2 separate regions of the Homo sapiens genome follow, and region 2 is linked to region 1. The links come from fine-mapping of genetic effects on gene expression. A gene starts in region 1. The other region holds a variant in brackets. All regions are shown on one strand. Distances are from middle to middle.

What was found. PIP is the estimated chance that this variant, and not a neighbour inherited with it, causes the effect. A credible set is the group of variants that fine-mapping cannot tell apart.
Region 2: its variant is the best candidate, but not a certain one, in a credible set for the expression of H2BW2 in nucleus accumbens (GTEx, PIP 0.69).

What each region holds. Positions count from the first base shown.
Region 1 is chrX:104,038,832-104,041,751 of GRCh38, forward strand. It overlaps H2BW2 (H2B.W histone 2), which reads left to right and starts at 1,125. Exons shown (of 4, transcript NM_001388464.1): 1 at 1,125-1,573; 2 at 1,997-2,055; 3 at 2,257-2,275. The coding sequence starts at 1,164. The coding sequence ends at 2,033.
Region 2 is chrX:104,545,645-104,548,564 of GRCh38, forward strand. No RefSeq gene overlaps it. Among named protein-coding and RNA genes, the nearest start is that of IL1RAPL2, 19 kb to the right of the region's middle. The variant G/C (reference allele first, on the strand shown) is at 1,666.

The DNA of each region.
Region 1 (2,920 bases):
TTCAGGACTGGTCACCTGCTCACATTCTGAGCCAGTGGCTCAGGCCCAGGGCTGAAGACACTTCATTAGTTGAGCCAGTGGAGAGTGGGGTTTGGGTGCTCTCATTGGATACTTCCATCGTAAGTGATGCATACTCACAGGACATTAAGCTTTGCATTAAAAAAGATTGTAGACTGGGAAACAATAGAATTAGACAAATGTGAATGAGTTAGAGTCCTTACTTTATTTTCTCGGAAGCTTGAAAGGGGTGCTGTTCATTGAATTTTTGATTTAGCTATTTCTGCACTGTGGGTTTTTGTTATGTATTTAAATGAATTGTATAATAGAGGTAATGTTGAAAAAAGATTATATGAGGTCTGCTTGTTCCATTAGTAATGTTTGCCCCGTTTGATGCTTCTAAATTGTTATTTACAGCAGTAAACTGTTTCCCTTTGTGTGTGTGTGTGTGTGTGTGTGTGTGTGTGTAATGTGATTTAATTTATAATATTTCAGGTATGAGTTTTGTAACCAAGTTTATAAATGTTCTCAGATTTTTGTAGTGTGCATCCTTCAATGGGTATCAACATCATGTTTTATTTTCTTGAAATAAGTTTTCTCTGCCAGGCACAATAGCTCATGCCTGTAATCCCAGCAGCTTGGGAGGCCAAGGCAGGAGAATCACTGGAGTCCAGGAGTTGGGACCAGCCTGAGGAAACATAAAGAAACCATGTTTCTCACACACACACACATACACACACACAAAATACAAAACTTAGCCAGGTGTGGTGGTACGCGCCTCTACTCCCAGCTACTTGGGAGGCTGAAGAGGGAGCATCACTTGAAACCAGGAGGCAGGGGTTGCAGTGAGCTGAGACCGCACCACTGCACTGCAGGTGTGCCACAGAGCAAGACTCTGTGTACCTTTGTCTGAGGTAGGCAACCCGGCCACTTAGGCGGGCAGACGCCCTCTGTGATTGGCTGACATGATTCCAAGCAACAGGATCATCCGATCACCTTCAATGGAGGGAAGATTGCTGAGAGGCGCCCTTGGTGACACTTCATCCAATCAGATGTCGAGTTGGAATGTGACGTAGAGCCATGCGACCATACCAAAGTGCCCCCCACTTCCCTGGTCCCCAACCGTCACTCTCTGTTCTTGCTATCTAATGGCCGCTGCTTCCGCCATGGCTGAGGCTTCCTCTGAGACAACCTCGGAGGAAGGCCAGAGCATCCAGGAGCCCAAAGAGGCCAACTCCACGAAGGCCCAGAAGCAGAAGAGGCGAGGGTGCCGAGGCTCCCGCAGGCGCCACGCCAACCGCCGTGGGGACAGCTTCGGGGACAGCTTCACCCCCTATTTCCCCCGGGTGCTGAAGCAGGTTCACCAGGGCCTCAGCCTTTCCCAGGAGGCCGTGAGTGTCATGGATTCTATGATCCATGACATATTGGACCGCATCGCCACCGAGGCTGGTCAGCTGGCCCATTACACCAAGCGCGTGACCATCACCTCCCGGGACATCCAGATGGCCGTGCGACTGCTGCTGCCGGGGAAGATGGGCAAGCTCGCCGAGGCCCAGGGCACGAATGCCGCCCTCAGGTACACCAAAAGCAAGTGAGCTGTCTCAGGAGCGCCTGAGCACCTGGGAAACCCAAAGGCTCTATTCAGAACCACCGCCCGTGGCCCTATAGGCCAGTGGCCCGCCAAGGGGGGGACCCCACCGGAGGTTGGTGTGGGTGGCACCGTTCCAGCTTGGGGGGCATGTGCCGTGTGGCCTCCTGCGGTTTTTCAAGCATTTTTCCCACAGTGCAAAACACTGTCAACTCCAATATATCTGTAGTGCAATATGCTCCAAGGAAAAGTAGGGGGTGTTTCCGTAATCGTGTTTCGTGTCCTCAGTTTCCCAAATGGCCGTTTTTCTTAGTTATCTTTCTAGGTTATCTTTATGATGATGTTATCAATGTACTGATGTTTACCTTTTTCACTCTCATTCTCCTACGACTGGATGGTGGGATTTTCCAGAACTTCATTATGTGCGATATGGCAACAGAGAAAGTGAATATGCTGATACAAGAAGCAAGGTAACCCTCCTAAATGTGTTCAGCATCTCTCTCATCATGAATCCATGTAAATAAGCAAACGAGGCCCAGTTACAGTATATATATGGCTAAATAAAATTTTCAAGAATCCATTCGTTTTCCAGCTTCCCCGACTCTGAGACCACTATTGTAATTCATTCTCTTTTTGTACTGACAGTAATTTTTTCATTTCTTTTTGAACAGAAACCTTCCTTACTTCCAGGTGTGTGTCAGTAGGATTACGGAGTGTCCACGGAAACAGCTCATGCCCTAGTGTACAGTGGTACAGCCAATGAGTGACCTGCAGTCTATGAGCAACAGTCATTGACCCAATGTGGGGGGAGTGACCCAAGCTGAACCCACAGCAGCCTTCCTGTTATATTCAACCTGGTGTTTAAAGGAACGGCAGTGTGATTCTTTACCTGATGTTTTTGTTTGCATTGCTTGTAATCATGATCTTTTAGGGATATGAATCCAAAGCTAAGATTAGAATATGTACCTTGTCCCTAACATCAAGTTATACAGAACATTGGCAACCATTAGTAGAAGTCAGATAAGGCTTATTTCCTCAAAAGATTAGCATATTTATATTCATGTTAATATTAATATAGGCTACCTTTCATTGTGCTCTCTTCTGGGTCCCAAGTCTTGGCATTTTAAGCATTTTTTTCTATAAGTGTATTGCTGAATTTCAGAGCAGGTGCTCACTTTCCCATTGCTTTCCTTTTCCATTGATTTCCAGTCGCCCGAGTATGTGGACAAGAGAACATACTCTGGGACTGCAACCCACAGGAATTTATTATGTTGTGCCTTGAAGCTCAACATGTGGCCATTTTTGTTAAATGTTTCCCGTAAATTTTGAAACATC
Region 2 (2,920 bases), 510 kb after region 1:
ATGTACAATACTAAGAGTGAGACCTAATGTAAACCATGCATTTTGAGGTCATAATGATGTATCAATGTAAGGTCATCAATTGGAACAAATACATCTTTCTTATGGGGCATCTTGATAATGGAGGCTATGCATGTGGGCGAGCAGGAGGTACATGGATTATTTTTCTACTGTCCTCTCAATTTTGTTGTGAACCTAAACCTGCCGTAAAAATAAGGTCTTAAAAAAATTACAACTCTCCATGCTTACACGACTCAACCTATCCCCTTGTCACTGCTTTATTTCTATTCATATCACTTATCAACATCTGACATATGCATATCTGTTTATTGTTGATGGTCTATCTCTCCCCACTAGAATACAAGCCCCATGAGAGTGTAGAAATTTGTCTATTTTGCTCACTGCTAATCTCCAGAATCTGGAAAATTACCTGCCACATAGTAGAGGATCCATAAAAATTTCCTTGTTTGAATTAAAAGCCAAAGTACTGGGTTATAATTTCACTGTAAAAATATGCACGTGTTTTCTCATTAAGGGGAAAACAGACTAACACTTATTGAGTATCCACTAAACACTATGTTATGTGCTTTTCATGTGTTCTATTATTTAATTCTCAAAACAATTCTCAAAACATTCTCAAATGGAATAGATATGATTGTTATGCCCACTTTATAGATGAGAAACTGAGGCACAGTACAGCTAGTGACTTTGCTCAAGGTCAAATAGCTTAATTTGTATTGGTGATGCTAGGATTTGAATCCAAATTTATCTGAATTCCAGGGTTGTATAATTTCTGTAAATAACCTCCCTGCCAGGACTAATTATTATTTAGTAATTAACTTACTACTAAAAGAAATCGTTATTAGAAATTAACTTACCAAATTAGTTCTTATTTTAATGGGTTTTGAGGAGCGAAAGGGGTAAGGAGGGACTCAAAAACAGAAAGGAGAAGTTTCAACTTGTTTGGCTGATGAGTTTCAGGGTAGCACTTAGGGATAGCAGGCTTTGGTGGGAACAGACACCTGTGGGGAAGAGTCAGAGTTAGTGTCACCAAAGGAATCTTCTCCTTCACAGTTGGACTTATCACTTAGGCTTGGCATTAAGGCTTTGGTGTGTAGCCCAGAACCAAAGTAGAGGCATTCCAGTCCATCATAGGGGAGTTAAAGGACTTGCAACTATTATAAGATGTGAGGTAATAGATATGTTAATTTGCTTCCTTTAGTCATCCTACGATGTATACATATATTAAAACATCACATTGTACCTCATAAATATATATAATTATTATTTGTCAATTTTTTGAAAAGGCTAGAGATATTGTTCTTTTGCCTGCACTGGGTCCCACACATTATAGCTTACATTTGTCTCCTGCATCCTAGCTCTGTGCTTAAACTTACAAAGGGGCAAGGGCTGTGGCAACGGCTTTAACAGTTCACCATCTTTTGCCCAGTCTTGGGGTAGCAATGAGACCTTTAGAGGTGCTAAGCACTAAGGTTATTCCTCCTCTCCCCCTACCATAAAAACATCAAACCTTAAAACAAGTAAATGAAAGTTTTAAAGTTCTCTAATTTTCTCCCATATAATGAAATCAATGATTTTTTCCTTTATTTATCAAACACCAATATCTTTCAGAAGTGTTCCTCTTGGTAAGAGATCAGGTGGAGGATA[G/C]CTGATTTGTTGGTGCCTTAAGTGGTGCTCGTGTACCTTTAGGTAATCTAACACTGTGGGGGATGTGATTAAAGGGGCAAAACTCTCCAAAATGATTTCCCCGCCTGCCACAGAGCTGTACATTCATGAGCTCTTCTTGGGGATAAAGCAAGGACCTCTGTTAACATTCAAAGGCAGTACTGCTATACACATGACAACCCATTGCAAACAGAGAGCAAAGATCCAAGTGGCTGGAGCAAAAGGAACATCAAGTTTGAAGGGTTAGAAGAGAGGAGGGGAAGGTTTGAAGTGTGGTTTGCTGGTAGGAAAGAGAGAGCCTAAGTGAGATGAATAAGTGGGAACCTTTGGGCAGCCAGAGGGAGGCCTGAGTTCTCAAAAGCTGGGTACCTTGATTTTGTATCCTGAGACTTTGCTGAAGTTGCTTATCAGCTTAAGGAGATTTTGGGCTGAGACAATGGGGTTTTGTAGGATACAATCATGTCATCTGCAAACAGGGACAATTTGACTTCCTCTTTTCCTAATTGAATACCCTTTATTTCCTTCTCCTGCCTGATTACCCTGGCCAGAACTTCCAACACTATGTTGAAGAGGAGTGGTGAGAGAGGGCATCCCTGTCTTGTGCCAGTTTTCAAAGGGAATGCTTCCAGTTTTTGCCCATTCGGTATGATATTGGCTGTGGGTTTGTCATAGATAGCTCTTATTATTTTGAGATACGTCCCATCATTACCTAATTTCTTGAGAGTTTTTAGCATGAAGGGTTGTTGAATTTTGTCAAAGGCCTTTTCTGCATCTATTGAGATAATCATGTGGTTTTTGTCTCTGGTTCTGTTTATATGCTGGATTACATTTATTGATTTGCGTATGTTGAACCAGCCTTGCATCCCAGGGATGAAGCCCACTTGATCATGGTGGATAAGCTTTTTGATGTGCTCCTGGATTCAGTTTGCCAGTATTTTATTGAGGATTTTTGCATCAATGTTCATCAAGGATATTGGTCTAAAATTCTCTTTTTTGCCTGTGTCTCTGCCTGGCTTTGGTATCAGGATGATGCTGGCCTCATAAAATGAGTTAGGGAGGATTCCCTCTTTTTCTGTTGATTGGAATAGTTTCAGAAGGAATGGTACCAGTTCCTCCTTGTACCTCTGGTAGAATTCGCTGTGAATGCATCTGGTCCAGGACTCTTTTTGGTTGGTAAGCTATTGATTATTGCCACAATTTCAGAGCCTGTTATTTGTCTATTCAGAGAGTCAGCTTC